Regions from separate parts of the Homo sapiens genome. Here regions 2, 3 and 4 are each linked to region 1. The links come from fine-mapping of genetic effects on gene expression. A gene starts in region 1. Each other region holds a variant in brackets. All regions are shown on one strand. Distances are from middle to middle.

Region 1 (8,102 bases):
AGGCCCTGAGCCCTCACACGTGACTGACCTGAGGTGCTGTGCAGACAGCAGGTGACGGCTAAGGGAAAGTTGAGCACTGCCTAGCCGAGCACTGAAGCCACGCCCGGCACACAGAGAGAGACCCACTCGGCAAAGACTTCGCTTCCAGGCACCTAAGGAACTCTCTGACCAGTCATTAGCTGACCACTGCCGTAACTGAAGAGCGGCTTCAGTGGCCACAGCTCGCAGGGAATGGAGACATTAATGCTTAGTCAGAATTAGTTCAGAAAAGTCACCCAGCAAAGAAACAGCTCCAACAGGCAACAACAACAACACATCCTTGGCAGGGAAGAGAATCTGACTTCCGGAGTTGCCACATTATCGCCCGTGAAATGTCCAGGTTTTAACAAATTATGAGACATGGAAAGGAAACCGAAAGGACGACCCAGACACGGGAAAAGTCACCAATGGGACCAGCCCGATGCTGCAATTGCTAGACAAAGACGTTCAGTCAGCTCATTTAAATATGTTCAAAGACCTAAAACATGCTGCATCTGAGGCTGCACCGGCTGGAACCTGCTGATCTCGGAAGCTAAGCATGGTCAGGCCTGGCTAGTACTTCAAAGGGAGAAACCACGTGTAGGCCTGGTGCAGTGGCTCACACCTATAATCCTAGCACTCTGGGAAGCTGAGGCCCGTGGATTGCTTGAGCCCAGGAGTTTGAGAGCAGCTTGGGAAATGTGGTGAGACCCCCATCTCTACAAAAAAATTTAAAAAATTAGCTGGCTGCCTATGGTCCCAGCCTCTCAGGATGCTGAGGTAGGAGGATCACTTCAGCCCAGGAAGTTGAGGCTGCAGTGAGCCATGACTGCATCACTGCACTCCAGCTTGGGCGACAGAGAGACCCTCTCCCAAGAAAAAGAAAAGAACCATGTCAAAAGAACTAACGAAAGTGTGGGAACAATGTCTCACCAATTAGAGAATATCAATAATGGGATGAACCTTATAAAAAGGGGCTGGGCATGGTGGCTCATGCCTATAATCCCAGCACTTTGGGAGGCTGAGGCGGGCATATCATGAGGTCAAGAGATTGAGACCAGCCTGGCCAACATGGTGAAACCCCGTCTCTACTTAAAATACAAAAATTAGCCGGGCGTGGTGGCACGTGCCTGTAATCCCAGCTACTCGGGAGGCTGAGGCAGGAGAATCGCTTGAACCCGAGAGGCAGAGATTGCAGTGAGCCGAGATTGCACCACTGCACTACAGCCTGGGTGACAGAGCGATACTCCAAAAAACAAAACAAAACAAAAAACAAAAAAAAAGTTTAAAAAGGAACCAAATAAAAATTCTGGAGTTGTAGGGTAAAATAAATGAAAATTCATCCCAGGGGCCCAAGAGCAGATTGGAACAATTGGAAGAAAGAGCCTGTGACTATGGAGAGAGGCCACCTGAGGTAGTACCCTCTGAGGAACAGGAACAAGCATGAAGAGCAATGCACAGAGATCCAGAGACCTGGAGACGCCGTCAAGCTTTCCGACATACACGCAATGGGAGTCCCAGGAAAGAAGACAGGGAGAAAGGAGTAAAGGAATAGTTGAAGAATTAATGGCTGAAAAACCTCCCAAATCTGATGAAAAATATTAATCTGTACATCCAAAAAGCTCATCAAACTCCAAGTAGGGTAAACTCAAAGAGATCTTCAGCCATACGCATCATCATAATCACTGTCAAAAGACAGATTTTTCTTTTTTTAGAATTTTAAATGTACCTTTTAATTTGCTCCTGGGGCAAAGAGCCAGGACTGGTACTAGAGCAGTGTCTGGGATGAGAAGAATTTAATAAAATGGGATTAGGTCCAATGGTTGGGTTAGGGGAGGCAACCTGCTCGGGAGGATCAGCCTCAACCTATCCATGCAGCAGGGCCTCCACCTGTCCCTCTCCGTAGTCCCACACCTGGAACCCAGAGCCATCTGCCTCTTCCCAGATCATGGCCGACAGCACTCCACCAGACTGCGGCTGGAGCAGGCACAGGATTCACTTATTGAGGGCTGTGGCCTGGCACAGATCATAGCCTATACCCAGGGACAGTTGTGTCACTTCTGCCACCACCACATCCGCCTTCTGCAGCCACATCAAGTACCACTCATGGATGAGCCCGTCACCCCCAGCGGACTTATCAACCCCGCGTCCAGCTCCACAGCCGCCACGTGCTCGGTGAGCACTGGCTCCAAGCATGGCAGCTGCCATACAATCCACCTGTAGAGGGCCCGGTCCTCCTGTCCTCAGTGGATGATCCCGTAGAAGTCCAGAGCTCGGCAGCTGCCCTCCCACAAAAGACAGGATTTTGAAAGCAGCAAGAGAGAAGAGACGTATCAGGTAGTCACAGTGGCTCAGGCCTGTAATCCCAGCACTTTGGGAGGCCCAGGTGGGAGGATCGCTTCACCCCAGGAATTCAAGACCAGCCTGGACAACTTGGAAGAACCCGGTCTCTACAAAAAATACAAAATTAGCTGGGATTGGGTGCGGTGGCTCATGCCTATAATCCCAGCACTTTGGGAGCCTGAGGTGGGTGGATCACCTGAAGTCAGGAGTTCAAGACTAGCCTGGCCAACATGGTGAAACCCTATCTCTACTGAAAATACAAAAAGCTAGACGTGGTGGCACACACCTGTAATCCCAGCTACTTAGGAGGCTGAGGCAGGAGAATTGCTTGAAGCCTAGAGGTGAAGGTTGTAGTGAGCCGAGATTGCATCATTGCACAATGGAGGGGAGCCACCAGCCTGGGCAACAAGAGGAAATCTCCGTCTCCAAAAAAAAAAAAAAAAAAAAAAGAATTAGGCTGGGTGGTGCCTGTAGTCCCAGCTACTTGGGAGGCAGGGGGTCCACTTGATGTCGAGACTGCAGTGAGCCATGATCCTGCCACTGCACTCCGGCCTGGGCAACAGAGTGAGACCCTGTCTAAAGAAAAAAAAAATAAAGCAACATATCCTGAACAAAGGATCCTCCATAACGTTCCCACCAGATTTCTAATCAGAAACATGGAGGCCAGAAAGCAGTGGAGGAGGACGACCCTCAGGCAGCCCGGGAGGATGTTGTCACAGGCTGGGGCAAGGGCCTTCCGGCTACCAACTGGGAGCTCTGGGAACAGCCCTGTTGCAAACAAGAAGCCATAGCCCGGCCAGAGCCCAGGAATGTGGGCTGGGCTGGGAGCAGCCTCTGGACAGGAGTGGTCCCATCCAGGAAACCTCCGGCATGGCTGGGAAGTGGGGTACTTGGTGCCGGGTCTGTATGTGTGTGTGACTGGTGTGTGTGAGAGAGAATGTGTGCCCTAAGTGTCAGTGTGAGTCTGTGTATGTGTGAATATTGTCTTTGTGTGGGTGATTTTCTGCGTGTGTAATCGTGTCCCTGCAAGTGTGAACAAGTGGACAAGTGTCTGGGAGTGGACAAGAGATCTGTGCACCATCAGGTGTGTGCATAGCGTCTGTGCATGTCAAGAGTGCAAGGTGAAGTGAAGGGACCAGGCCCATGATGCCACTCATCATCAGGAGCTCTAAGGCCCCAGGTAAGTGCCAGTGACAGATAAGGGTGCTGAAGGTCACTCTGGAGTGGGCAGGTGGGGGTAGGGAAAGGGCAAGGCCATGTTCTGGAGGAGGGGTTGTGACTACATTAGGGTGTATGAGCCTAGCTGGGAGGTGGATGGCCGGGTCCACTGAAACCCTGGTTATCCCAGAAGGCTTTGCAGGCTTCAGGAGCTTGGAGTGGGGAGAGGGGGTGACTTCTCCGACCAGGCCCCTCCACCGGCCTACCCTGGGTAAGGGCCTGGAGCAGGAAGCAGGGGCAAGAACCTCTGGAGCAGCCCATACCCGCCCTGGCCTGACTCTGCCACTGGCAGCACAGTCAACACAGCAGGTTCACTCACAGCAGAGGGCAAAGGCCATCATCAGCTCCCTTTATAAGGGAAGGGTCACGCGCTCGGTGTGCTGAGAGTGTCCTGCCTGGTCCTCTGTGCCTGGTGGGGTGGGGGTGCCAGGTGTGTCCAGAGGAGCCCATTTGGTAGTGAGGCAGGTATGGGGCTAGAAGCACTGGTGCCCCTGGCCGTGATAGTGGCCATCTTCCTGCTCCTGGTGGACCTGATGCACCGGCGCCAACGCTGGGCTGCACGCTACCCACCAGGCCCCCTGCCACTGCCCGGGCTGGGCAACCTGCTGCATGTGGACTTCCAGAACACACCATACTGCTTCGACCAGGTGAGGGAGGAGGTCCTGGAGGGCGGCAGAGGTGCTGAGGCTCCCCTACCAGAAGCAAACATGGATGGTGGGTGAAACCACAGGCTGGACCAGAAGCCAGGCTGAGAAGGGGAAGCAGGTTTGGGGGACGTCCTGGAGAAGGGCATTTATACATGGCATGAAGGACTGGATTTTCCAAAGGCCAAGGAAGAGTAGGGCAAGGGCCTGGAGGTGGAGCTGGACTTGGCAGTGGGCATGCAAGCCCATTGGGCAACATATGTTATGGAGTACAAAGTCCCTTCTGCTGACACCAGAAGGAAAGGCCTTGGGAATGGAAGATGAGTTAGTCCTGAGTGCCGTTTAAATCACGAAATCGAGGATGAAGGGGGTGCAGTGACCCGGTTCAAACCTTTTGCACTGTGGGTCCTCGGGCCTCACTGCTCACCGGCATGGACCATCATCTGGGAATGGGATGCTAACTGGGGCCTCTCGGCAATTTTGGTGACTCTTGCAAGGTCATACCTGGGTGACGCATCCAAACTGAGTTCCTCCATCACAGAAGGTGTGACCCCCACCCCCGCCCCACGATCAGGAGGCTGGGTCTCCTCCTTCCACCTGCTCACTCCTGGTAGCCCCGGGGGTCGTCCAAGGTTCAAATAGGACTAGGACCTGTAGTCTGGGGTGATCCTGGCTTGACAAGAGGCCCTGACCCTCCCTCTGCAGTTGCGGCGCCGCTTCGGGGACGTGTTCAGCCTGCAGCTGGCCTGGACGCCGGTGGTCGTGCTCAATGGGCTGGCGGCCGTGCGCGAGGCGCTGGTGACCCACGGCGAGGACACCGCCGACCGCCCGCCTGTGCCCATCACCCAGATCCTGGGTTTCGGGCCGCGTTCCCAAGGCAAGCAGCGGTGGGGACAGAGACAGATTTCCGTGGGACCCGGGTGGGTGATGACCGTAGTCCGAGCTGGGCAGAGAGGGCGCGGGGTCGTGGACATGAAACAGGCCAGCGAGTGGGGACAGCGGGCCAAGAAACCACCTGCACTAGGGAGGTGTGAGCATGGGGACGAGGGCGGGGCTTGTGACGAGTGGGCGGGGCCACTGCCGAGACCTGGCAGGAGCCCAATGGGTGAGGCTGGCGCATTTCCCAGCTGGAATCCGGTGTCGAAGTGGGGGGCGGGGACCGCACCTGTGCTGTAAGCTCAGTGTGGGTGGCGCGGGGCCCGCGGGGTCTTCCCTGAGTGCAAAGGCGGTCAGGGTGGGCAGAGACGAGGTGGGGCAAAGCCCTGCCCCAGCCAAGGGAGCAAGGTGGATGCACAAAGAGTGGGCCCTGTGACCAGCTGGACAGAGCCAGGGACTGCGGGAGACCAGGGGGAGCATAGGGTTGGAGTGGGTGGTGGATGGTGGGGCTAATGCCTTCATGGCCACGCGCACGTGCCCGTCCCACCCCCAGGGGTGTTCCTGGCGCGCTATGGGCCCGCGTGGCGCGAGCAGAGGCGCTTCTCCGTGTCCACCTTGCGCAACTTGGGCCTGGGCAAGAAGTCGCTGGAGCAGTGGGTGACCGAGGAGGCCGCCTGCCTTTGTGCCGCCTTCGCCAACCACTCCGGTGGGTGATGGGCAGAAGGGCACAAAGCGGGAACTGGGAAGGCGGGGGACGGGGAAGGCGACCCCTTACCCGCATCTCCCACCCCCAGGACGCCCCTTTCGCCCCAACGGTCTCTTGGACAAAGCCGTGAGCAACGTGATCGCCTCCCTCACCTGCGGGCGCCGCTTCGAGTACGACGACCCTCGCTTCCTCAGGCTGCTGGACCTAGCTCAGGAGGGACTGAAGGAGGAGTCGGGCTTTCTGCGCGAGGTGCGGAGCGAGAGACCGAGGAGTCTCTGCAGGGCGAGCTCCCGAGAGGTGCCGGGGCTGGACTGGGGCCTCGGAAGAGCAGGATTTGCATAGATGGGTTTGGGAAAGGACATTCCAGGAGACCCCACTGTAAGAAGGGCCTGGAGGAGGAGGGGACATCTCAGACATGGTCGTGGGAGAGGTGTGCCCGGGTCAGGGGGCACCAGGAGAGGCCAAGGACTCTGTACCTCCTATCCACGTCAGAGATTTCGATTTTAGGTTTCTCCTCTGGGCAAGGAGAGAGGGTGGAGGCTGGCACTTGGGGAGGGACTTGGTGAGGTCAGTGGTAAGGACAGGCAGGCCCTGGGTCTACCTGGAGATGGCTGGGGCCTGAGACTTGTCCAGGTGAACGCAGAGCACAGGAGGGATTGAGACCCCGTTCTGTCTGGTGTAGGTGCTGAATGCTGTCCCCGTCCTCCTGCATATCCCAGCGCTGGCTGGCAAGGTCCTACGCTTCCAAAAGGCTTTCCTGACCCAGCTGGATGAGCTGCTAACTGAGCACAGGATGACCTGGGACCCAGCCCAGCCCCCCCGAGACCTGACTGAGGCCTTCCTGGCAGAGATGGAGAAGGTGAGAGTGGCTGCCACGGTGGGGGGCAAGGGTGGTGGGTTGAGCGTCCCAGGAGGAATGAGGGGAGGCTGGGCAAAAGGTTGGACCAGTGCATCACCCGGCGAGCCGCATCTGGGCTGACAGGTGCAGAATTGGAGGTCATTTGGGGGCTACCCCGTTCTGTCCCGAGTATGCTCTCGGCCCTGCTCAGGCCAAGGGGAACCCTGAGAGCAGCTTCAATGATGAGAACCTGCGCATAGTGGTGGCTGACCTGTTCTCTGCCGGGATGGTGACCACCTCGACCACGCTGGCCTGGGGCCTCCTGCTCATGATCCTACATCCGGATGTGCAGCGTGAGCCCATCTGGGAAACAGTGCAGGGGCCGAGGGAGGAAGGGTACAGGCGGGGGCCCATGAACTTTGCTGGGACACCCGGGGCTCCAAGCACAGGCTTGACCAGGATCCTGTAAGCCTGACCTCCTCCAACATAGGAGGCAAGAAGGAGTGTCAGGGCCGGACCCCCTGGGTGCTGACCCATTGTGGGGACGCATGTCTGTCCAGGCCGTGTCCAACAGGAGATCGACGACGTGATAGGGCAGGTGCGGCGACCAGAGATGGGTGACCAGGCTCACATGCCCTACACCACTGCCGTGATTCATGAGGTGCAGCGCTTTGGGGACATCGTCCCCCTGGGTGTGACCCATATGACATCCCGTGACATCGAAGTACAGGGCTTCCGCATCCCTAAGGTAGGCCTGGCGCCCTCCTCACCCCAGCTCAGCACCAGCACCTGGTGATAGCCCCAGCATGGCTACTGCCAGGTGGGCCCACTCTAGGAACCCTGGCCACCTAGTCCTCAATGCCACCACACTGACTGTCCCCACTTGGGTGGGGGGTCCAGAGTATAGGCAGGGCTGGCCTGTCCATCCAGAGCCCCCGTCTAGTGGGGAGACAAACCAGGACCTGCCAGAATGTTGGAGGACCCAACGCCTGCAGGGAGAGGGGGCAGTGTGGGTGCCTCTGAGAGGTGTGACTGCGCCCTGCTGTGGGGTCGGAGAGGGTACTGTGGAGCTTCTCGGGCGCAGGACTAGTTGACAGAGTCCAGCTGTGTGCCAGGCAGTGTGTGTCCCCCGTGTGTTTGGTGGCAGGGGTCCCAGCATCCTAGAGTCCAGTCCCCACTCTCACCCTGCATCTCCTGCCCAGGGAACGACACTCATCACCAACCTGTCATCGGTGCTGAAGGATGAGGCCGTCTGGGAGAAGCCCTTCCGCTTCCACCCCGAACACTTCCTGGATGCCCAGGGCCACTTTGTGAAGCCGGAGGCCTTCCTGCCTTTCTCAGCAGGTGCCTGTGGGGAGCCCGGCTCCCTGTCCCCTTCCGTGGAGTCTTGCAGGGGTATCACCCAGGAGCCAGGCTCACTGACGCCCCTCCCCTCCCCACAGGCCGCCGTGCATGCCTC
Region 2 (8,102 bases), 520 kb after region 1:
CTCCCAACGTGCTGGGATTACAGGCGTCAGCCACCATGCCCAGCCCACATCAGTCAAGTTTTAACTAAACTTCTTGGAATGGAGCCATTTAGTTGTTTGTTTTTTTATCATAGTGAGGAATCAGATATTTCCTATACCCCACGTAAAACCTCCCCCTTTACACTGGGTATTTTTTATCCTATTACCTAATAATTATTGGGCAGCTGAAAGGAGCCTTAGGAGTCATTATTTCATTCATTCAGCAGATGTTTATTGAGCGTCTGCTCTATGCTAGTCAACGTGTTAAGGTAAATGAGGTTGATATAATGAACAAAGATGTTCTTTGCCATCATGGAGCTATCTAATGGGGGAGACATTAAAAATAAATACATAAATAATTAGTTACAAATTGCATAAGTGCCTTCTGCACAGGAAGCACACTGGGTGCTGTGATAGAAAATAACAAGAGAGACCTTTTTTTTTTTTTTAGACGAGTCTTGCTCTGTTGCCCAGGCTGGAGTGCAGTGGGGTGATCTCAGCTCACTGCAACCTCTGCCTCCCAGGTTCAAGTGATTCTCCTGCCTCAGCCTCCAGAGTAGCTGGGATTACAGGCGCATGCCACCACACCTGGCTGATTTTTATATTTTTAGTAGAGACAGGGTTTCACCATGTTTGCCAGGCTGGTCTTGAACTCCTGACCTCAAGTGATCCGCCCGCCTCAGCCTCCCAAAGTGCTAGGATTACAGGCATGAGCCACTGCACCCAGTGAAGAGACCTATTTTAAATAAGGGTATCAAGGGTAGTGACTTTGAAAGTGGGAATTTAGGATGAGGAAGAAGTAGCCACAGGAGGGTAGTAAGGGAGTAACAGTGTTCCAGGTAGGAGAAAGATCAACCTGCCAAAGCCCTGAGACAGGAAAGAGTCTGGCCTGATACTGGAACTGAAAGAAGGCTTTTGTGGAGTGTAGTGGGTGAAGGGGAAAGTGCTGTAACTGAAGATGGAGTAATAGACCTGCCCCCTTCCCACTCCCCGCCCTTTTATATAGATGTAAAGTCCTGGAATGCCTCAGCCAAACATGGGAACATCACCCATTCATTGGGCACATCAGATTCTGATCTGAGGAAATCACCTTGTGTGCTAATCTACTTCTGTCTTCTCTACCTCTTTTTTCCATATTGCTTTTATACCTTTTGCAAAATTAATGAAGAAAGAATTAGCAAAGCTAGTAGTCATTACTTTCTAGAGTTGAACACTTAAGGAAAATAGGCATGGTCTTACTGATTCATCCCATTCAGACAACACAAATCTTGAAGTTGGGTATGTCCCAGTGCTATAAGTAGCCATATATTGATTTCCCATTCCTAAATACATTTGAACCTTTAAAAAATCAATTTGTTTCCTGATTTTTATGATGAATTCTAGAAGTATATTAATAGCCACTATTTATTGAGAGCTTACCATGTGTCAGACCCTTTTTTTCTGAGTACTTTGCGTGCATTATAATCCTCACCACAACTTTGTGAGATAAGTCCTGTTATTGCCTCCATTTTCTTGATTGAAGAACCTGAGAAGTAGAGTGTTAAGGAATTTGCCCCAGGTCCCAGAGCTACTAGGTGGTAGAGCTGGGTTATGAACACAGGCAGTCTGACTTCCAGAGCTCGCGTTCTCTGTCATTTTGAGATACCACCTCTGTGTAATACGTTCCTTTAAAATTGAAGTAAAGTAGATGCCTTCCTGAAGTTTGTAAAGGCATCCTTTGCCAAATGTTTCAAGTTTGGATGAGAAAAAAAGCTGGGTTCAATGTGTATGTGCCACTTACAATCTAGATTTATGATCATGCCTCTTAGTCTCCATTTTCCCAAATTAAATCCATGTGATCTCATCTGCAGTACCCTCTCAGGCTTCAGTTATGTCAGTTCTCCAATGGGAGACCTCATCTAGCTCTGTCGCAGTTCAGGATTAGACTAGATAAAGCCCAAGGTAATTCCCCTTTCCTGAAGCAATGTAAATTCCGTAGTTTTAGCCTGTCCTGTTTTCAGCCTCCTGGAATTGCCTCAAGTGAAGGCATTACTGTTCTATAGCTTTTCATTCACTATGAAAAATGGTCCCAAAATTATCTTCAGCATTCTAATTGAGCAGATAGCCTCATTGCACCTTTTTTCATAGTCACCAATTGCCTAAAATAATTAGCTATTATAAGTGTCCTTCAGTTCCTCCTCTTAATAATTTTGGCTGCTCTTTAAGTTTCTTGACCTCTTTTTGTGCCACAGTACATGCAGAAGTGTGTGTGTGTGTGTGTGTGTGTGTGTGTGTGTGTGTGTGTTTTAATTGTGGTAAGAAGTACTTCATATTTGTTTATTATTTTCTGATCAGAAGTTTCGTGTACATGCATCACGTTTATTTTTCTTTACAAGCCCATTTCAAAACTGTTTTCAGACTTAAAGATTTGGAGACATAGAATATATAAATTGCTTGGCAGAATGAATTCTAATGAATATTAGAGATTTTACACTATACTCAATTCTTTACTTCATTTTGTAGTACAAATAGTAATGAAATAAAAGATATGACGTGAACTCTGTCCTCCAGGAATTTTTCTTTTTTTGAGGCAGAGTTTCACTCTTGTTGCCCAGGCTGGAGTGTAATGACACGATCTCGGCTCACTGCAACCTCCGCCTCCTGGGTTCAGGCAGTTCTCCTGCCTCAGCCTCCCAAGGAGCTGGGATTACAGACATGTGCCACCATGTCCAGCTAATTTTTCTATTTTTAATAGAGACTGGGTTCCACCATGTTGGTCAGGCTGGTCTCAAACTCCTGATCTCAGGCGATCCACCCACCTTAGCTTCCCAAAATGCTGAACAAACCCCCCTCCCAAAGTAAGGCATGAGTCACCATGCCCAGCCCAGGAGTTTTTCTTAAAATATTATTTTCCTTTAAATAATGAATGTACACATATAACATTTGATAACAATATAAAACAGATTATGATTAGGTGCCAAAGTGAGTGAGTGGTGCATGAACTATGTTAGGCTTTGAAATAAGAGAGGCCATGGTGAGCTGAGCATGTCAGAGAGGCTTTGGCAAGAGCCTGGAGCTCCTGGAGGGCAAGGACTCTGTCCCCTTCCTATATGTCCCCAGTGGCCTGTTGGAGCAGGTGTTCAGTAAGTATTGATTATAGAAATGATTGAGACTTGAACTTAAGCTTGAAGATTAAGTAAAATTTATTCAAATCTGAGAGAGGTTTTTTCTGTTTTAATGCCATCTATTGTGCTTTGTTTTTGATTTTTGTTCACTGTGTGAACTGTTTTATACTCATCTAATGAATTAATTTAATAATCATTCAATTTCTTTAAGGCAAAATGGAAAGGAATATGGCTTACAAGGCCCTGCGTGATTCTGCTTTTTTAAATTTTCTTTTTTTTTTTGAGACAGAGTCTTGTTGTGTGCCCAGGCTGGAGTGCAGTGGCGCGTGCCTCCCAGGTTCATGCCATTCTCCTGCCTCAGCCTGCTGAGTAGCTGGGATTACAGGCGCCCGCCACCGTGCCTGGCTAATTTTTTTTTTTTTTTTTTTTTTTTAATTTTTAGTAGAGACGGGGTTTCACCGTGTTAGCCGGGATGGTCTCGATCTCCTGACCTCGTGATCCTCCCGCCTCGGCCTCCCGAAGTGCTGGGATTACAGGCTTGAGCCACCGCGCCCGGCCTGTATTTTTTTTTAGAAGAGACGGGGTTTCACCATGTTAGCCAGGATGGACTTGATCTCCTGACCTCGTGATCCGCCCGCCTCAGCCTCCAAAAGTGCTGGGATTACAGGCGTGAGCCACTGCATGTGGCCTGACCAGTGGTTTTCAAATGCTCTTTAGCTGTGAAACTCTTCCTTGAAATGAAATCTTCTGCAGATATGCATGTGGAAAACAGGTGAAAAGGAACTTTTTTGTTAAAAAAAAAAAAAAGAAGAAGAAAACAAGGTGGGGTGAGGTGGCTTATGCCTGTAATCCCAGCACTCTGGGAGGCCAAGGCGGGTGGATCACCTGAGGTCAGGAGTTTAAGACCAGCCTGGCCAAGATAGTGAAACCCCATCTCTACTAAAAATACAAAAATTAACTGGGCACGGTGGCGCATGCCTGTAATCCCAGCTACTCGGGAAGCTGAGGCAGGAGAATCGCTTGAACTCGGAGGGCAGAGGTTGCAGTGAGCCGAGATCATGCCACTGCACTTCAGCCTGGGTGATAGAGTGAGACTCCATCTCAAAAAAAAAAAAGGATGTAGGCCGGGCACAGTAGCTCACACCTATAATCCCAGCTACTTGGGAGGCTGAGGCAGAAGAATCACTTGAACCCCGGAGACGGAGGTTGCAGTGAGCCGAGATCACGCCACTGCACTCCAGCCTGGGAAACAAAGTGAGACTCTGTCTCAAAAGGAAAAAAGAAAGGATGTAAATTCACTCAATTCATTTTTAATGTTATTGTTGGCTCCAAGTGTTTGGTGGATGAATGAATAAGTGAAAGAATGAACAGGCTGGGTGCAGTGGTTAACCCCTGTAATCCCTGCACTTTGGGAGACCGAGGCGGGTAGATCACAAGGTCAGGAGTTTGAGACCAGCCTGGCCAGCATGGAGAAACCCCGTCTCTACTAAAAATACAAAAAATTAGCCGGGCATGGTGGCGAGCTCCTGTAATCCCAGCTACTCGGGAGGCTGAGGCAGGAGAATTGCTTGAACCCGGGAGGCGGGGGTTGTAGTGAGCCATGATTGCACCGCTGCACCCCAGCCTGGACAACAGAGCGAGACTCC[G/A]TCTTAAAAAAAAAAAGAAAGAATGAATAAATAAGGGGATCTTTTTTCTATAGTCCCTATCTCCACTCTATGAATGGATGAGATCCTAAGTGTACCTTGATGCAGTTGAATAGGAAGTGTGGCGTGTAGCTTACAGGCAAATTCAGTGATGATACAAAGGATATAAAGGAGAATAAAGTAGGGTTTGTATCCTGCAACTTTTGAGTTGTTTTTCAGGTGTGAAATAACTGAGGCCCCTCTTCAAAAATCTGTTTAGTAGGAATGGGTTTGAGCTGATGATACATCCATACCTGCCAGCTGTACTCCTGAGTCAGTGAGCATGCGCATCTGAGAAGACAGCAGTAGACTGGGAGTGCAGTATGCCAGGGTGGCAGAGTCATTGCAATAACAAGCCAGGCAGCCCAGATTGGGGTTAGGAACTTTGTCCTCAATAGCACTGTGTGTCAACCAACAAAGCTAACTAAACAGAACAGCTCATCTCAACAGATGTTCATGTCACATCTCAGGACCAGGTCCTTTGCTAGGTGCTGGAGTTATAAAGATACATAAGAAACTGTCCTGGTTACTGAGGCAACTGTAGTCTAACTGGGGAGAAGGACACGTGAATAGTTTCAATACCAGGGTACTATGAGAACAACTATAAAACTTTCAAATTATAAACCCTAGAAGAAATGAGTTAGCCTTTATTGGGCATGTATTATGTCCCAGACCCTGTGCTACGCATGTGTCATGTATCGTCTCTTTTAATCCTGGAAATGTTATGAGGCAGGCAGTGTTATTATGCTTTTTTTTACAGAATAGGAAACTATAGTTTAAACAGTGCGTCCAATAGAACTTTCTGCAGTGATGGAAATGTTCTAGATCTGCACTGTCCAGTAAGTAAACACTAGTCACATGTGGCTATTGAATACCTAAAATGTGGTTAGTGGAACTGAGGGACTGAATTTGTGCATTTATTTAACTTAAATAGCCACATGTGGTCAGTGGTCACCATATTGGACAGCTCAGGCTTAGTGTTCTCAGCCTCTGCAGTGTTCTCTGTGATCTGGTCCTCCATTACCTCTGGTCATCTTCTACTTCCCCTCCTCACCCATTCTAACTTCACTGGCCTCCTTACAGGCCTTCAGATAAACCTGGCATGTCATTGCCCCTGCATCCCTCTTTCCCTTGCCTCCTTTAAATCTTGGCTCAAAGCTGGGCCTGGTGGCTCACGCCTGGAGGTGGGAGGATCACTTGAGCCCAGTAGTTCAAGTCCAGGCTTGACAACATAGGGAGACGCCGTCTCAAAAAAAAAAAAAAAAAAGTAGGCCTGGGTGGTACACATATAGTCTCAGCAACTGGGAAGCTGAAGTGGGAGGATCACTTGAGCCTGGGAGGTCAAGGCTGCAGTGAGCTTTGATCGCGTTACTGCACTCCACCCTGAGTAGCAGAGCAAGACCCTGTCTCAAAAAAAAAAAAAAAATCTTCACTCAAATATCACATTCTCAAAGAGGCCCACCCTGATCATCCCTGAAACTCCCTTAACCTACTCTTTTTTTTTTTTTTCTTTTTTTGAGACAAGAGTTTTGTTCTTGTCGCCCAGGCTGGAGTGCAGTGGTGCAATCGCAGCTCACTGCAACACCTCCCGGGTTCAAGTGATTCTTCTGTCTCAGCCTCCCGAGTAGCTAGAATTACAGGTGTGTGCCACCATGCCTGGCTAATTTTTGTACTTTTAGTAGAGATGGGGTTTCACCATGTTGGCCAGGCTGGTCTCGAACTCCTGACCTCAGGTGATCCGCCCGCCTCTGCCTCCCAAAGCGCTCGGATTACAGGCGTGAGCCACTACGCCCAGACCCCCTTAACCTACTCTTGTTCGTTCTATACCATTCACTATTGCTAACATGTTATGACTTATTATCATCATTATTATTATTGACTGTCCCCTCCCCCCACCTAGTAAGTGTCATGAAGGAGGTTTTTGTTTACTGATGTATCCTTAGTGCCAAGGATAGTGCCTGGAAGGTAGTAGTCACTCAATAAACCATTAGTTCACCGTTTAAGCCAGTAGGATTCACACCCAACCTGTCTACACCAGAACCTGTGTTCTTATTCACTATATTGTACTTCCTCCTTGTAAGCGTAGCATTCCTCACAAAGTAAATGAGAAAAGCTTCATTTGAAAGGAACAGGGGCCAGGCGCGGTAGCTCACGCCTGTAATCCCAGCACTTTGGGAGGCCGAGGCGGGCGGATCACGAGGTCAGGAGTTTAAGACCAGCCTGGCCAACATGGTGAAACCCCATATCTACTAAAAATAGAAAAATTAGCCAGGCGTGGTGGTGAGCGCCTGTAGTCCCAGCTACTTAGGAGGCTGAGGCAGGAGAATCACTTGAACCTGGGAGGCGGAGGTTACAGTCAGCCAAGATCACACCATCGTACTCCAGCCTGGGCAACAGAGTGAGACTGTCTCAAAAAAAAAAAAAAAAAAAAAGAAGGAACAGGTAAGAGAAAGCAGGTATCCTTAATTTCTCCAGTTTCACTGAACTATTAAATGTCTTCACGTAAATAAACAAATTGCAGCCATTTAAACAGCTGATTTATAAATGACAGTTCAGAAGGGCACATCAGCTCTATTTAAAATGCAGTGTTAGGCCACATAGAGTGGCTCACACCTGTAATCCCAGTACTTTGGGAGGCTGAGGAGGGCAGATCTCCTGAGGTCAGGAGTTCGAGACCAGCCTGGGCAACATGGTGAAACCCAATCTCTACTAAAAATACAGAAATTAGCTGGGCATGGTGGCGCACACCTGTAATCCCAGCCTGTACTTGGGAGTCTGAGGCACCAGAATTGCTTGAGCCCAGGAGGCGGAGGTTGCAGTGAGCCAAGATCGTGCCACTGCACTCCAACCTAGGCAATAGAGTGAGACTCTGTCTCAAAAAAAGGAATGTTAGTCTCCCCATTTTACATATAGTAAACAGGAAAGAGGAGATTTAGTATCTTATAGCCCAGTGGAACCCAGGGTTTGAAGATGCTCGTCCTAAATGGATTACCACTCCCCTTTGGCATCCAGTCTGGTTCTCATCAACCACTGTGAAATTTCACCTCAGTTTGGATAAGGTCAGAACCTGCCTCACATTCTTTAGGGTGCTATCCCCAGAAACCCCTGGCTAGGATCCCTCTATCCACTTGTGGTCTTTTTTTTTTTTTTGAGACAGAGTTTCGCTCTTTTCACCCAGGCTGGAGTACAATGGCGCCATCTCAGCTCGTCGCAACCTCCGCCTCCTGGGTTCAAGTGATTCTTCTGCCTCAGCCTCCCAAGTAGCTGGGATTACAGGCGCCTGCCACCACGCCCAGCT
Region 3 (8,102 bases), 91 kb before region 1:
CCGACTGTGGGTTGGAATTCAGCTGACTTTAGGCCTGATTCTCAAAAAATAATTTTGAGCTAGTGACCCTGTGTGCACACTTGCCTGGGCACTGTGGTGTCCAACAACCCTGTGTGTGGCATTGGCACCAGGTTTCCTGAAGTAGAGGTCCTGTCTGGCAGGCTCCTCCCTTCCCTCCTGCTTCTGACTTGTGGGGTCCCCTGTGCCTCTATTTCTTTCCCTTGGGCAGAGCAGCACTTTGCTGTCAGTAGGAACAGATAAAGCTCTGATACTGTTGAGATAGTTCAAGGGTTGTAATTTTTTTTTTTTTTTTTTTTTTGAGACGGAGTCTCGCTCTGTCGCCCAGGCCGGACTGCGGACTGCAGTGGCGCAATCTCGGCTCACTGCAAGCTCCGCCTCCCGGGTTCACGCCATTCTCCTGCCTCAGCCTCCCGAGTAGCTGGGACTACAGGCGCCCGCCACCGCGCCCGGCTAATTTTTTGTATTTTTAGTAGAGACGGGGTTTCACCTTGTTAGCCAGGATGGTCTCGATCTCCTGACCTCATGATCCACCCGCCTCGGCCTCCCAAAGTGCTGGGATTACAGGTGTGAGCCACCGCGCCCGGCCTAAGGGTTGTAATTTTTAAATGAGGTTAATGACATTTTGGCTGAGCACTGTGGCTCACCCTGTAATCGCAGCACTTTGGGAAGCCAAGACAGGTGGATCACTTGAGGTCAGGAGTTCAAGACCAGCCTGGCCAACATGGCGAAATGCTGTCTCTACTAAAAATACAAAAATTAGCCGGACGTGGTGGCAGGCACCTGTAATCTCAGCTACTTGGGAGGCTGAGGCAGGAGAATTGCTTGAACCTGGGAGGCAGAGGCTACAGTGAGCCAAGATTGCACCACTGCACTCCAGCAGTGCAGTGTAAGACTCTGTCTCAAAAAAAAAAAAAAAAAGTGATTATTTCCTACACAAAAATTAATGTAAATAGAAATGAAAAGGGGAAAAAATACTTCCACAACACTGCCATCTTGGATAGTCCAGAAGTTTTCCTTTTTTCTCCATTATTCCCTTTGGCCTGGGACTAAATGAATGCCTCATTTTCAGATAGTTATAATCATAGCACAGGTATAAGTTTACGTGAGCTGCTCTTTTCATCTGATACTATGTAATTTTCTATGGTGCTAGAGTCTTTGCAATTGTTTAAAATGATTATGTACTATTTCTTTGAGTGGATATACCATAATTTGTTTAATCAATTTTCAAATAGGTTGTTGCCAGTTTTTTCTTCTAATACATATTACTGGAGTGAATATGTTGGTATTTTGTTTTTTTGTTTGGTTGACTGTTTTATTACCAGTTTTCTTTTCCAAGAGTCATAATCATTTATGGTGCTTTTTTTTTTTTTTTTTTTTTTTTTTTGTACCAGCTTTAGCCTAACCTAACCAGATGGGATATCATCTTTTAAATTTTTTAGGAAATTTTTTTTTTGAGACAGAGTCTCGCTTGTTGCCCAGGCTGGAGTGCAGTGGTGCGATCTCACTGCAATCTCTGCCTCCCAGGTTCACGCCATTCTCCTGCCTCAGCCTCCTGAGTAGCTGGGACTACAGGTGCCTACCACCACGCCCGACTAATTTTTTTGTATTTTTAGTAGAGACGGGGTTTCACTGTGTTAGCCAGGATGGTCTCAATCTCCTGACCTCGTTATCCGCCCACCTCGGCCTCCCAAAGTGCTGGTATTACAGGCGTGAGCCACTGCGCCTGGCCAGGAAATGTAATAGTTACAAATTTATCCCCCTAGTTTTTGCCTGCATGTATTTGGTCATGATTCAAGGTGGATATTTTTTATGGCTTACATGGCTAATATGAGTTTTGACACCCAGAAAGCAATCTTTTTAGATATGCAGCATTCTTGTGGGTTTCTTTCCTTCTAGACAAGGAACTGACTTGCGAATTCTGAGTTGCTTTCAGACTCTTCTGATCTCCCAAGTCAGGGAGGAAGCCAGCACCTTCATTACACTTCATTTTATTCTGAAGTCCTATTACACTAAGATAACTTTTAGCCACTGAGAAAAATATAGGCTCTGCCCATGTGCAAACAGGACATAGAGTATGAAATATTAAGTCACTGAGCAGATCTTTATGCTTGATACACTTAGGAAGATCCCACATTTGCACATACACAAAACAAACGATACAGGTGTTACAGATATATCTAGGTACAAGCAGTCAACTAAATTCTAGCAAGATTCCTCAAGATTCCTTTCTAAAATGCTTCCCAATGTCACAGATTGGGAAATACAGACTGGGTTTTGCAGTGGGCATATTATATATCTTATCTCATTGTTTACCATGAATATTTTGCTTGTTTAACTTCTGAGTCTCCATTTACAAAAAGGATTACTAACATTTCTTAGATCATGGTAAGGATGAAATGCATTAACATTTGTGTAAAGCACCTGATAGTGTGTCACATGTGTGAGGCATGGCAATAATTGATAGCTACAGTTATTAGAGATCTGACCCAAGTGTGTGTCAGGATTTTCAAAAATATGCATTTGGATCTTCCTTGCCTAATTTTGTGGTACAGTGAAAGAAAGGGTTATGGGCTCTAGAATCAGAAGAATTGGAGTTACAGAATGTCAGCTCCAACTTGTCCTAGAGGAGTGACTTTTGGAAAATTTGGACTTTTGGAAAAAATTACATTAATTTTTCCCCCTCATTCATTAATTGAGTTACAGGTAAAACCACACAGTGACTAACATATATAGATTGCTAAATAAATGGCAATTATTTATTTATTTACTGGGACAGGTCTTACTGTAGCACCCAGGCTGGAGTGTAGTAGCGTGCAGCCTCGGCTCACTGCAACCTCTGCCTCCCAGGCTCAAGTGATCCTCCTGCCTCAGCCTCTGGAGTGGCTGGGACTACAGGCACAAGCCAGCACACCCAGCTAATTCTTTTGTATTTTTTGTGGAGACGGGGTCTTGTTATGTTGCCCATGCTGGTCTCCTGAGCTCAAACAGTCTGCCTGCCTCGGCCTCCCAAAGTGCTGGGATTACAGGTGTGAGCCACTGTGGCCGGCCAGCAATTTTTATTATATCAGTGGTACATACCTTAGATACTGGTTAAAGGTAAATACTTTAATTGGTTTGTTTTTACTAAGCAAGGTAAAGCCAACACATTCTCTGCTTAGAGGAAGATTTGTAGAGAAAATCACATGGATAACACATTTTAGGAGCTCTTAAGATACAGCAGGACACATTCTAAGAGCTCTTAAGAACCATATGATCTCATGTGGCAAGAAGGAATTTATGGGCCTGGGGATGCTTAAAAGGCTCCAAGTTGAGACCAAGGTGAGAGTGGGCCGATGGCACAAAGGGGGCTGAGCAGGCTTGTTTGAGAGGGTGGGGAGAAGCAGAAATTGTGTTGGGAAGATGTCACAGGGCTTCAGGGCCTATGGGGGGGTGTGATGGTGTCAAAATGGCAGTTAAGCAAAAGAAAGTACTGGGAAAGAGAACTTTTCAGGTGTTATTCTAGCCCAAGAAAGATGAAAATGACAGTGACGAGAATGGAATGGGAAAGGACAAATACAGGAAGGAGAGTAGTGTCATGATGAGGTAGCATGGTAAATACAGAGTCAAAGTGAAAGGTCAGTTTGGGGTTATTCTAAAGCTTCTTGCTTGGGATGATCATGGTTTTCTTTGAGAATAGGCAGTTGGGTCAGTTGAGGAAGAACAACCTTATCTTTGTCATTGAAAATGAGTTAGTTACTGCCTAATAATAAATGCATTTGTTGTCTTTTAGAAATGATTACAGTCACAAGTGACACTGTCCAGAGTCCTTAAGTACTGATCTGTCTAGAGGGCCAGAGGCCTTGCTCTGTCTCTGCATGGTCATTAAAACCTTTGCCATATGGGGCCGGGCGCGGTGGCTCATGCCTGTAATCCCAGCACTTTGGGAGGCTGAGGCGGGCGGATCATGAGGTCAGGAGATCGAGACCATCCTGGCTAACACGGTGAAACCCTGTCTCTACTAAAAATACAAAAAATCAGCCAGGCACGGTGGTGGGCGCCTGTAGTCCCAGCTACTTGGGAGGCTGAGGCAGGAGAATGACGTGAACCCGGGAGGCGGAGCTTGCAGTGAGCCGAGATATCGCCACTGCACTCCAGCCTGGGCAACAGAACGAGACTCCGTCTCAAAAAAAAAAAAAAAAACCCTTTGCCATATGGTTAATAAGCCCTATAGACCCCACATCCTTGGCATTCAGAGCCCAGCACCTGCCTGCAACTCTCTTCATAGTATCTCATCCAATTTTGGACTTTGGGCATTTCTTACTTTCTTGCAACTTGGCTATACATTTTGTCTGACATTTCTAAGTGTTTTGTTGAGGGAGGATTTTTAGTCCCTGTTCTATGTCATAGTGCATGAAATAGAAGTCTCTCATTCCCCAAGTGGCAATAGTCTACTCTGAAATCCTAGGAATGAGAAGAACTCTTATCAGTCAGGGTCCCAGTAGAAAACAGATGGCACATTCAAACTGGGTAATTTAAGGAGTGTTTAATTGTATCATTCAGGGTTCATTCAGGAAAAGAGAAGTTGTCTATTCC[G/A]GTATGAATGGTTTTGATACAGGAATTAAGGCTTTACCCAACCCTGGAAGAACTGGAATTGGGAAGGTTCCTGATGATTTCATACTGAAGTGTCATAGTGAATGGTTCTCGTGAGCTCATGGGGAAGCCGCTATGAATCCACGTGTGCTGCATCTACCTCCAGGGAATATCATCAACCTCTACGTTTATTTTGCCTTCTAAATCTCTCTTGCACTTCTCATTGCAAACTCTAACCCAGAACCATGCTGCTAAAGGGTTCTGGAACGGAAGTTCTCAGCTTCTGATCTGCAGAGGAGAGCTTGGAAGGAGGGTGGTCACGATGCTGAGTTGACAACAATGCAGAAGATTAATAAAGGGACTGGAAAGGGTGAGCAGGGTTTGGGGAAGCCAACAGGAAAGTGAAGTCTTCTGTGCTAGCAGTAGCAGGGAGTTGTTACCTACTGCCTTCTAGACCTGAAGGGCAGAGGATGAAGTGGTTCCTGGAGTTTGGAGAAAGTGGCTATATGTTGAGGTTGCCCGATGGAGCTGCAGCCATTGGTGGAGGGTCTCAGCCAGCCTCAGTAACCTCGGGGTGGGAGCCAGGAGAGTAAGTTCCTCTCACTTTCCTCCTCTCCTGCCTCTTACCAGCCAAACTGGGTCAGAAGGCAAGGGTGGTGGGGCCTGTCAGTTGTCCTTCCATTGTCCGTTCTAGGGCATAGAGTAGGGTGGAGATGGGTGAGGAGAGGCTGTGGGGGCAAACAGGGAATATCCCTTACACAGGCTATAACTAGATGCATCATTGTCAATGTCTTGAGGATTTAAAGGCAAAGAAGGAGAATAAGCAGAAAATCATGACAGAGGATGAAAAAATTAGCTGGGGCCAGGCACAATGGCTGAATTCTAGCACTTTGGGAGGTTGAAACAGCAGGATGGCTTGAGCCCAGGAGTTTGAGACCAGCCTGGACAGCACAGTGAGACTCTGTCTCTATTTTTAAGAAATTATAAAAATTAGCCATAGTCCCAATTATTTTTTAAAAATTAGCCAGGGGTCCCATGCCTGTGGTCCCAGCTACTTGGGAGGCTGAGGCAGGAGGATTGCCTGAGCTGGGAGTTGAGGCCGCAGTGAGCCTGTGGTCATGCCACTGCACTCCAGCCTGGGCAACAGAGTGAGACTCTCTTTCCAAAAAAGAGAATGGATTGGGAAGTGGGATGTTGTTGGACATATGGAGGAAGAAGGACAGAGAAAGCCAATGTTGGTTTTCTATAAGAGGGCAAGGTCATCAGCCCTCTAATAGGATGGGGAGAACAAGTCTGCAGCTGGTTATGAGTGAGTTTGTGAGGTCGGCACATGGACTCTGGAATGTTTAGGCACAGAGTTCTGGACCTCACTAATACACCTCCACAGCCCTTCTGAAACTGTTCAGAAAGTTAGGAATATAGGAGAAAAACAGGAAAGGGAGAGTCATTATGGATGGGAAGTACATCGGTAGGCCTCTTTTTTATTTATTTATTGAGACGGAATCTCGCTTTGTTGCCCAGGCTGGAGGGCAGTGGCGCGATCTCTGCTCACTGCAACCTCTGCCTCCGAGGCTCAGGCGATCCTCCTGCCTCAGCCCCCCGAGGTGCTGGGACTACAGGCACGCATCACCATGCCTGGCTAATTTTTGTATTTTTTATAAAGATAGGGTTTCGCCATGTTGCCCAGGCTGGTCTCGAACTCCTGAGCCCAAGTGATCTGCCCGCCTTGACCTCCCAAAGTTCAGGGATTACAGGGGTGAGCCACTGTGCCCAGCCTCTTTTTTAGAGTGTGTATGCAAGTTCCTTAGGTGACTTATTCCTTTGAGGTATCAGATTTTCCTTACTATTTGTATTCATTTAAACAAAGGAATTCAGGCACTTATTATTACTAATCACAGTGCTTTAAAACTGACTACACTGATGCTTTTTTTAAGATGATGGGATAAAATTGGAATTATCTCTATTAGCTTTTTTTTTTTTTTTTTTTTTTTTTTGAGACAGGGTTACTGTCACCCAGGGTGGAGCACATTGGCACATTCATAGCTCGTTGCAGCCTCGAACTCCTGAGTTCAAGCAATCGTCCTACCTCAGCCTCTTGAGCAGCTGGGACTGTAGGCACACCTCATGACACTGTGCATTTAAAATTTTTTTTAACCCAGGCTGGTCTTGAACTCCTGACCTCAAGCGATCCTCACACCTCAGCCTCCCAAAACACTGGGATTACAGGTGTGAGCCACCACACCCAGCCTATTACTTATTTTATAGCTCCAGGTTTACATTTTCTGTCGTTGGTATATGCTAGTTGGTTTTCTTAATTGGTTTACTTGGCATTCCTAAAAAAGATAAACCTGGGCAACCACCTTCTCCTACTCAGGTGCTTCATGTATACTAAGAATATTTAGCATGACTGGAACCCTGCAGGAGGTATTTGGCCTTGGATTTTTTTTTTTTCTTTTTCATAAAGTAGAACCATAACAATAGGGAAAGGGGTATCATACAGGACAGGGAATCTGCAGGGGAAGGCTGAGAACAGACCTAAGAAGGAGTCCTTCCTGTATCTGTTTTCCCTGTCTGGAGATAGGGCAGCCTCAGGCCTGATACCCTGATGTTTAAAGTGGCCTTTAGCTCTTGGTGGCTCCTATTTAGGAAGAATATGGAGCAAGTGGCAACATTGTTTATACACTCAGATCTTCAGAAGCCTGATTTTATTTCCAGAAGGATTAATTAAACAACATGTAACATAGCTTTTTATAGAGAATATCTCTTGAGAAGGCTTTTCATTAGTTTAAACTGCTAGCTTTAATGTTTTTGTTCAATTTAGCCCCCATTCAGCCTTGTTTTATCTAGAGAAGGCCACTGGCACTGAGGAGTAGAGCAGGAGCACATCACAAGGGGAAAAAATTAATACTCATGTAGACAGAATTGCTCTTGATAGTTCTAAGAATGATGGGGAGCGGGTGAAGAGCCAGCTGGAACAGTATGGAGGTCCTTATAAGAGGGTGGCAGTGAAGGGACAGATTTATTGTGGGTGGCTACCCACTTTCAAGGCCAAACTGACAGGACAACTGGTATTTTTTACTGACCATGTGGAAGACCCTCTGGGCAATGTAATGTTAAAAACATGTCCTGCCCCCAGCCCTGCTGCCTAGGAGCTTTGTGAACTCTGCTTCTGTTTCCTCATCTGTAAAAGGAGCGTGCTAGTGTTGTGAGGATTAAATGAGTTAGTGTATGTGAAGTGCTGGAACAGTGTCAAGCAGCATCATCACCATTTGAATAGCTATTACCTACTGCCCTGCAGATTCACTGGAACAAAGCAACAGAGGCATTTTGAATAGGATGAGAAGTTTCCTTTAGATTCTGACATTATTTGCACATGAATGTTTAGCGATTGTTTTGGGTCACATGACTATATAATCAAGCTTAAGGAAGTAGACCCTTGTCTAGCTGTTTTAGACTTACGATATTTCAAGATATGGGTCAAGCTTTTAGAATTTGGGGTTACTGGCCATCTT
Region 4 (8,102 bases), 56 kb after region 1:
CTCCGCCTCTTAGGGGTAAGAGGCTCAGAGCCTACCCCTTAGGCCTAGTTGGATGCGGGTCGGTCCTGCCCAAGGCCCCAGTGAGGGGAGCCGAGGCTAGGAAGGGGCAAGTTTTATGTGTTTGGGAGGGGGTGTCTCTTCCCGGCCTCTGCGTCTTCCCCCTGGAGCGTCAGTATGGTCAGGCTCTGGTGACCCAGCCGCTTTGCCTCCCGACTTTGGGAAGAGTAGCAAGGAGAGGTCCTGGCAAGTACACCCTGGGTGACAAACGGCTATGAGAGTTCCCAGGTGATTTCTCGAGCAGCTTCAGTTTACCGGAGCCCAGCCAGGAGAGAGAATTTTAGCACAGGAAACGCAATCCCGTGTCCAAGCTCCTAGAATACCCAGGACTGAGAACCAAAGCAACAGACTTTTCCCAGGGAGCCACACTGCCTCCCCACCTCTTCTTTAACCCCTCACTTGGCAGCTCCAGGAGTTGGCTGCTGAAGACAGAGTACAGGAGGGCATTTCGTTGACGTAAAAAAGCTACAAGCCCCTTCCGGGGCAAGGTCCAGCACCATCTGTTAACAGGGCAGCCAGGGAGAAAGGATGGGACCCCAGCACTCTGAGCAGAATAAATCTCTCTTCACTGGCCGAAGACCCTCTGCCTCAAAGGGCCCTACCCAGACTGCTGAGTGAGGATCCCATCCCCAATCTTCCCACCCCTCTCAGGAAGAGCTGGGTCCCAGAAACTCCTATGACACAATAAATCCACTTTCTCTGACAGTGTCAGAGCTTCAAGCCGATACTGCAGCCTACCTCGGATTTAAGTGCACAGGAGACTCCCCAGGTTGGAAATTATGGCTCTAGAGCCCGGTGTGTAGGCCAAAGGTATGGCAAGCCTGTGACAGTCTCGGGTGACATTCCCCACTTCCTTCATTTCATTAACATCCCCTGGGAGGGGGCAGTCAGGCCAGTGCAGTCAGGAGATTGGGGTCTTGCTCTGTGGCTGCTAAGTCTCCTTCCTTCTCTGGACCTCAGGAAATAAAGAGGATGGAAGGAATGGTCCCGCAGTCCCTTCCAGACACACGGGTGGATCTCGAACCTGGAGAATGCCTAAATAGCAGGAAGGAGAGAACCCATGTCCCCTCCCAAAACGCAACCTTGGAAATGGGTAAACATTTAACTCCTGAAAAAGAACTGGCCCTGGTTTCCTGACTCAAAGGGCCCAGACTTAGGGCCTATCCTGTTCCTCACATTTTGAGTGGCTCCCCTGGGCCCTCTTCTGCCAACACTGCCGCAGCTCCACGATCTCCTGGCCATACCAGTCATGCAGGGTAGAGAAGCAGGAGGTCTCAGGGGACACAGGGCTCTGCCCCTTGCCTAGGAGGAGGCTGGCAGGGCCCTGCAGCTCCCACTCAGCCAACCCCCACCCTGCAGACCTGCTGCCCGCTTCTTCAACCAAGCCCACAGGGCTGCTGTCCTTGGAGAGGCAGTGGCCATTCTCCAGGCCCGCAGCTCGGTGGTTAGGAGCCTGGGGCTTACAGCGGCTGGCAACAGACTTCCAGGATGAGCGGCGTTGCAAAGCCAGGCTCTGGCGTGCGTCCTGCAACTGGCTCTCCAACTCGCGTACCACCAGGCGCATGTAGCCAAAGCTTGCCCGGGACAGCACCTTCACCCAGGCCTCCTGGGCCGCCGGCCCTTCTGCGGCCAGCAGGTGTGGGCGCACTCCAGGGGCATCAAAGCAGATGGCAAAGGCAAACTCCTCGGGCACGGGAGCCTCGGCCAGTTCCACTGTGCAGCCTTCCAGCACCACCAGGCTCAGTGGGGCCCGGCCCTCGCGACTCTCAAAGGAGAATAGCAGGTTGCCCTTGAGGACAAACCAGCATCTTCGGCCAGTGCCACTGGGGGTCGGTGGGGTCCCTGGGCCCCCCCAGGTGCGCAGGAAGCCCATGTGGTCCGCTGGGGAGTCGCTGAGTGCATAGTGGGCTACACTCCTCTCGTTCAGCTTCATGGCTCCCACGGGAACTGTGAGGCAAGAGAGATGGCAGCAGATCAGAGAGGGAGGTGGTTCCGTGCCCTCCTGGGGAACAGCACCGGCTCCAGAGGCAACCTGGACCCCAGCCCTGGGACTCCTACTCGCTTGCTGTGTCCCTAAGGTCCCTAAAGTCTCCTGAGAAGTGGGCTCGTCTTTCCTTCCTTTTCTCTCAAAGGGATGTCGTGAGGATCATGCAAAAAAAACTGGACACTGGCGGACTTCGAGAAAAGAATAACGAGATTGCATCAGACAGGAGGCATGGCAGGACCTGGGCACGGCTTTCTAAAATCCAAAGAAACAGGCCCCAGCTGAGCTGAAATGGACCCCAGACCCATCGAAACCACTGTGCTTAAACTATCCCCTCATCTGGGGTCCTCTCAACTCCAACTCTGAGGCCAAGCTTCCAGGGTTTCCATGACCCTCCTGGGCCTCTACTGGCCTCTTATTTGCATATAGCTGTTGAATCTTATTGACCTACAGGCAGAAGCTGAGGCACAAATATAACTTTAAAGAGTTTACTTGAGCGAGAGTAAGGATAACTGCCCAGAACAAACTTCTAAGTTGCCGTGGGGTGTGCTGCGTTGGGCCTTTCCTACAGGTTTTTATAGGCAGAAGGGGGCAAGGATGACAAAGTTGTTTGGCAGGAATTCTCCTTGGTTTATAGAAATAACATTGATTGGTGGGGTGCGGTGGCTCACATCTGTAATCCCAGCACTTTGGGAGGCCGAGGTGGGTGGATCACCTGAGCTCAGGAGTTGGAGACCAGCCTGGCCAACATGGTGAAACCCCGTCTCTAAATACAAAAATTAGCCAGGCACGGTGGTGGGTGCCTGTAATCCCAGCTACTCGGGAGGCTGAGGCAGGAGAATTGCTTGATCCCAGGAGGCAGAGGTTGCAGTGAGCCAAGATTGTGCCATTGCACTCCACCTGGGTGACAAGAGAGAAACTCCATCTCAAAAAAAAAAAAAGAAATAACATTGATTAGTGATTGGCTATACATTGTTGAACTATAGGGTATGAACTATAGGGTGTCCAGTGTACAGCATTTTATGGCTACTTGGTGTCACTCTAGAGCCACATAGCAAGTGGCTTCAAGAGGTAATTCTTGATCCTTTTGTAGTTCATGAGCGTGATGATTGGGTGTTCACATGCATGTGTGAGCTGTGCCACCCTCGAACCTTGTTACCATGTAGGCACATTACCGATCTGACATGAAGAAAAGAAAAGAAAAAAAAAGAAAAAGAGATAATTCTTTAGCTCAAGGGAGGAGTAAGACTTGACAGCTGTTGCGTTTCAGTATGTCTGGGCCTGATTATTTAAAGGGGCTCCAATTCCTCAGATAAAACATTATTTTTCTGTCTCAATCTGCAGCCTTCAGGGCCAGATGGGGAGCTACTCTGTACACAAGAGTGTGGCACAAACCCAGGGTACAGCTGAGAAGAGCTAACCACAGCCATTGAATGTGGGTGCCCCCAGCATCATGAACGGCACTTAGTCCAGCTGTCCTTACTCATGGAAAACCAAGGCCCAGCGCA[G/T]TGAGGGGAACTTGCCCAAGGTTACATGGCCAATGAGACGCAGAGCTTCGTCTCCCAAATCCCTCACACTGTACCCACTTACCAGCAGGGCTCACTGGGGGAGGGCAGGGACCTCTTGTCTGGCCACACAGCTCAGCCCTTCGACCACCTGGTTCCCAGGGAACCTGCAAAACAATTCTCAAGCCCAGTCAGCTTATCCCAAAGAATGAGAACTCCTACTCCACCTTCGAGGCCTAATGAAACCACAGCCTCCACCGGGAAGCCTTCCCTGACCCCTGAGAATCCCCCCACCCATCCACCCAGCCAGGAACCCCTGAGCAGCTTAAGGGGATGGGTCCCCTTGTCTTGACCTTTACTCTTCAGACCCCAGCTCCCTGCCTGAGTCCAGGTCAGAGCTACACATGCCCTCATGGTTCCTAGCTTTTCCCTTCTAGCACTTCCTGGCTTTAACTGAAGTCACCTAATCTGGGAGGCCTTCCATGATCACCATATCATCTAAGGTGGCCCTGACCACCAAGGTGGCCTGACCTAAGGTCACCTGACCAGTAGACCCCCCCATTTCTGGTTTGTTTCCTTCATCCCACGACGATGTCATATGTGTTTACAGCACTGTTCCCAGCCCCAGAATGTCTAGGGTGGGGCTCAGCTAAGTTCCCAGGAGAACCCCAATACCCAGCACCGTGCAGGGCTCAGAGAGGCCCTCAGGAGGGATCTGTTGAATTAATGGGGATACATCAGTGGACAAATCGAAGTCTCCCGCCCTCCTGGAGCCTACATTCCCACAGGGGGAAACACACTGTAGGCAAACAAAATAAATACTAATAAATTAATGAAAGAATAATTAGTGAAATAAGAGATAACATAAGGACCGGTAATGCTAAGGGTTATGGAGAAAAACAAGCCAGGCCCCTGGATGGGGAGAGACGCCATTCCAGTAGGGGGGGCCCAGGAAGGGGGAAGAGATCACAGATGTTTGCCAGAGGAGTGGCCTCACTGGGGGTCCTGGGCCCAGCACTGGGGCACAGGGAGGGGGTGGGCAGCCCGTGGGGCCATGACCCCTCCCCTCCCCCGCGTCTGGGGAAGGGCGCTCCCTCCTCTCCACCAGTAGGGGGGCCAGGCCACCGCACACCGGGCCTCCCGCCCGCCCCACCGTCTTCCTGGATTCTTTTGTTGGAGGAGAGGCGGGCTGGGGGTGCGGGACCGCCGGGCCAGTGGCCACTGCGGGGAGCCCCAACCCGGTTGTCGCCCTAAACAGAGGTCACCTCGGTCAGGGTCTCCCTGGCTGCCGCCTTGGTTTCCCCGTCCTCGCGTCGGGGCTGTTCGCCGCCACTTCCCCGCGGCCACACCTTCCCTGGGGCCACCTCCTCCCGGAGCCCGCCGGGCCCACTCTCACCTCCCGCCGCCGATCGCACCGAAGCCCAAGAGGGCGATCCCAGCTCGAGATCCCGCGCCTCCGCCTGGGCTGCAACGTGGCCGCGGGAGCCGGGAGACCCCGCCCGGGAGGCTGGAGTTAACGCCCCTCCCCGCCCAGTATTCGCCAGGCCCGGGATCTCCGAGGCCGCCTCGAGGTCTGCCAGGGCGGGAAACTGAGGCCCGAGAGGGCGGTGAACTGCCCGAGCCACAGCACTGGTCGGTGCGGGCGGCCTCGAACCCAGAGGCCCCCCTCGGACGGTCCGCGGGCCTCGGACCCAGCCCACCGTCCGGAAAACTCTGTCCATCTCTTCCTCTCTGGTCCCCCTCTCCCTGCTCGGCCCACTTTCCCGGCAGAGCCAAACCAGGGATGTCTCTGGGTACCTCCCTAGGGTGGGCTCCTACACAGCCCGCGAGGGCCAGCCAAGCTTTGTTGGCCACCCACCGGGCCACCGGGGTCGGCTGATTTCTGCCTCTGGAAATTACCCATTTCTGCTTCCCTGGCCTGAAACCCACCGGCAGCCCCCAGGCTCTGCACTAGTGGGTGGAGGAGGAGGCCTGCGGTGAAGGTCGCAGGAATGCACAACCAAACCCAAGAGACTGGAACTTCTGGAAGGCCCTGGAAGCCGGAGGTGTCCTCAAACATCTGCCCATGAACCTGGCTCCCGCCTCAGAGCCTTTGCCCTTGCAGTTCCTGCAGCCTAGAATGGCCTTCCTTCCCACCCCCAACCGCAGCTCCACTCCTCAGGACGCCTCTGGACACAGATTTGAGTCTCTGCTCAGTGGTCTCCTCTGGGACCATTGTAAAGCAACCTGCCCTGCAGTCTCTGTCCCATCCCTGGGGTGTTATTTCCATCAGAGCACTCACTGCTAGAGTAAACTTTCCTATGCTCATGCTTTTATTTTCTTGTTTATTGCCTGTCTCCCCTACTAAATTTTATTCAGTTAATACTGTACACCATAATAAATGTGTTAGAAGATAATAAGTGGCATGGAAAAACAGAGGAGGGTAAGGGAGATGGGAAATTGTGGGAGTAGGGAGGTTGCAATTGCAAATAGAGTGGTCAGGGTAGGCCTCACTGAGAAAGTAACATTGGACAAATACTTGAAGGAAATGAGGGAGCCAGCCATGCCAATTCCAGGCAGAGGGAACAGTCAGCGCAGTGGCCCTCAGGCCTGTTGTGCTTGAGGACCTGCAAGAAGGCCAGTGAGGCTGGGAGGCCTGGGGAGGGGCAGACAGTAGGAGGTGGGGGTAGAAGGGGTGGGATGGGGCTCTGTAAATCTGGGAGGGCTGTTACTCTAGACAGGGCTGTGAGGAGGGACCTGAGCGATTTCAAGGCATACTCTGGCTTCTGTGGTGAGAATCAATGTCAGTGGAGGCTGGAGACCAGTGAGGAGCCTGCTGCCACTATCCAGGCGAGATGTCACAAACGCGGCAAGAGCGGGGAGGGAGAGGCAGCCAGAATTAGAATGGCTGTTGAAGGTAGAGAACACAGGATTTGCTGAGGAGTTGGATGTGGGGAGTGAGGGAAAGAGCAGGCAGGACTGCACAGTTTTGGCTTGAGCACCTAGGAGAGTTGTCATTATCTGAGATGTGGAAAGTGGCCGGTGCTTGGTCTGGGTTATGTTTGAGACACCCAGTGGCCATCTGAGTGAAGGTGCTGTTGGGGCTCAGAAAGCGATGCCTAAAAATATGGCACTTGGGCATGCTGAGTACTTTGAACCAAAGGACACTGGAAGAGCCTCAGAAGCAAAGTATCTCTCTGACCTTCTCCTGCCCCCCTTCTTTCTCCTGTTTTTCTCCTGCAAGGCAGGCCATAGAAACTAAAAATCCTCCTCCCTAAGGTGAGTTATAGCAACTACAAATATTGGCTGGGCACAGTGGCTCATGCCTGTAATCCCAGCACTTTGGGAGGCTGAGGTGGGCGGATCACGAGGTCAAGAGATCAAGACCATCCTGGCCAACATGGTGAAACCCCATCTCTACTAAAAATACAAAAATTAGCTGGGCATGGTGGCGTGCGCCTGTAGTCCCAACTACTTGGGAGGCTGAGGCAGGAGAATCGCTTGAACCTGGGCGGCGGAGGTTGCAGTGAGCAGAGATCGCGCCACTGCACTCCAGCCTGGTGACAGAGGGAGACTCTGTCTCAAAAGAAAAAAAAAAAGAAAAAAAAGTAACTACAAATATTACTGGAAACATCCCCCACCTTTCTGTGTCGGGCCTGGCCATAAAGGAATTCTCTGATCTACCTTGCCTGATACTAGGTCATAAGACTCTCATTCCAGAAGGGGTCCTGCCCTCCTCCCAGCAGGAGGGAATGCCACACAGAGAGAACAAGAAGAATCCGAATCTGAACAGACATTGCTGGGTTTCCACACTCAGCTATTAACATTAAATCATTCCCTTTTGTCTAATCGCGTTTATACACAGTTGTCCATTCCTTATTCCTTTTTTTTTTTTTCTGTTGCCCGGGCTGGAGTACAGTGACACAATCACAGCTCACTGCAACCTCGACCTCCTGGACTCAAGCAATCCTCCCACCTCAGCCTCCCGAGTAGCTGGGACCACAGGCACCTGCCTGGCTTTTTAATTTTTTGTAGAGACAGGGTCTCACTATGTTGCCCAGACTGTCCTTAAATGTCTGGCCTCAAGCGATCCCCCTGCCTCAGCCTTCCAAAGTGCTGGGATTACAGGCATGAGCCACCAGACCCGGCCAGGGCTGTCCATTCTTCATCAAACCGAGACATAAAAATAAAGATTTCCCTGAGTATTTGTGTCTTCATTCCTGAAGGCTCTCAAGTCACATAAAACATTGAGTAAATCAATCTATTATGCTTTTCTCTTGCTAACCTATATTTTATTTGTAGGAGTGTCCGCTGTGACCTTTGGGATGAGTAAGGGAAAATATCACACCTTTCTGCCCCTACAATGCCCAGAACAAAGCATTTGGCACTTAGCAGTTTCTCAATAAATACTTGATGAATGAATGAAGAAGGAAGTAGCCCAGTCTGTGCGAGTAGTCCCTGAGCGTCAGGCGGGGAAGGAGAGCCGGCTGCCTTTGCGGGAGCTGTGACCGCCTGCTTTGGTGCCTCCCACGCACCCTCCTTGTAGAGACGATTAATCCCAGACTTCCATTTTCCTA

Evidence for each region.
Region 2: its variant is fine-mapped to the expression of CYP2D6 in whole blood (TOPMed, PIP 0.98).
Region 3: its variant is fine-mapped to the expression of CYP2D6 in whole blood (INTERVAL, PIP 0.96).
Region 4: its variant is fine-mapped to the expression of CYP2D6 in whole blood (TOPMed, PIP above 0.99).

What each region holds. Positions count from the first base shown.
Region 1 is chr22:42,126,736-42,134,837 of GRCh38, reverse strand. It overlaps CYP2D6 (cytochrome P450 family 2 subfamily D member 6 (gene/pseudogene)), which reads left to right and starts at 4,028. Exons shown (of 9, transcript NM_000106.6): 1 at 4,028-4,226; 2 at 4,929-5,100; 3 at 5,653-5,805; 4 at 5,894-6,054; 5 at 6,488-6,664; 6 at 6,855-6,996; 7 at 7,204-7,391; 8 at 7,846-7,987; 9 at 8,086-8,102. The coding sequence starts at 4,047. RefSeq lists a cis regulatory region at 2,732-2,743 and promoters at 2,437-3,969, 3,556-4,022.
Region 2 is chr22:41,610,726-41,618,827 of GRCh38, reverse strand. All of the region lies in intron 1 of DESI1 (desumoylating isopeptidase 1), which reads left to right. Among named protein-coding and RNA genes, the nearest start is that of DESI1, 6.3 kb to the left of the region's middle. The variant G/A (reference allele first, on the strand shown) is at 4,769.
Region 3 is chr22:42,217,838-42,225,939 of GRCh38, reverse strand. The region is part of intron 1 of TCF20 (transcription factor 20); the gene reads left to right. Among named protein-coding and RNA genes, the nearest start is that of TCF20, 49 kb to the left of the region's middle. RefSeq lists an enhancer at 7,599-8,102. The variant G/A (reference allele first, on the strand shown) is at 4,594.
Region 4 is chr22:42,071,182-42,079,283 of GRCh38, reverse strand. PHETA2 (PH domain containing endocytic trafficking adaptor 2) reads right to left here and starts at 5,036. Exons shown (of 3, transcript NM_001002034.3): 1 at 4,943-5,036; 2 at 3,632-3,713; 3 at 1-2,004. The coding sequence starts at 1,990. The coding sequence ends at 1,211. It also overlaps the pseudogene SNORD13P1. RefSeq lists silencers at 1-159, 3,985-4,279, 4,519-4,898 and enhancers at 1,080-1,642, 4,253-4,983, 4,984-5,716. The variant G/T (reference allele first, on the strand shown) is at 3,550.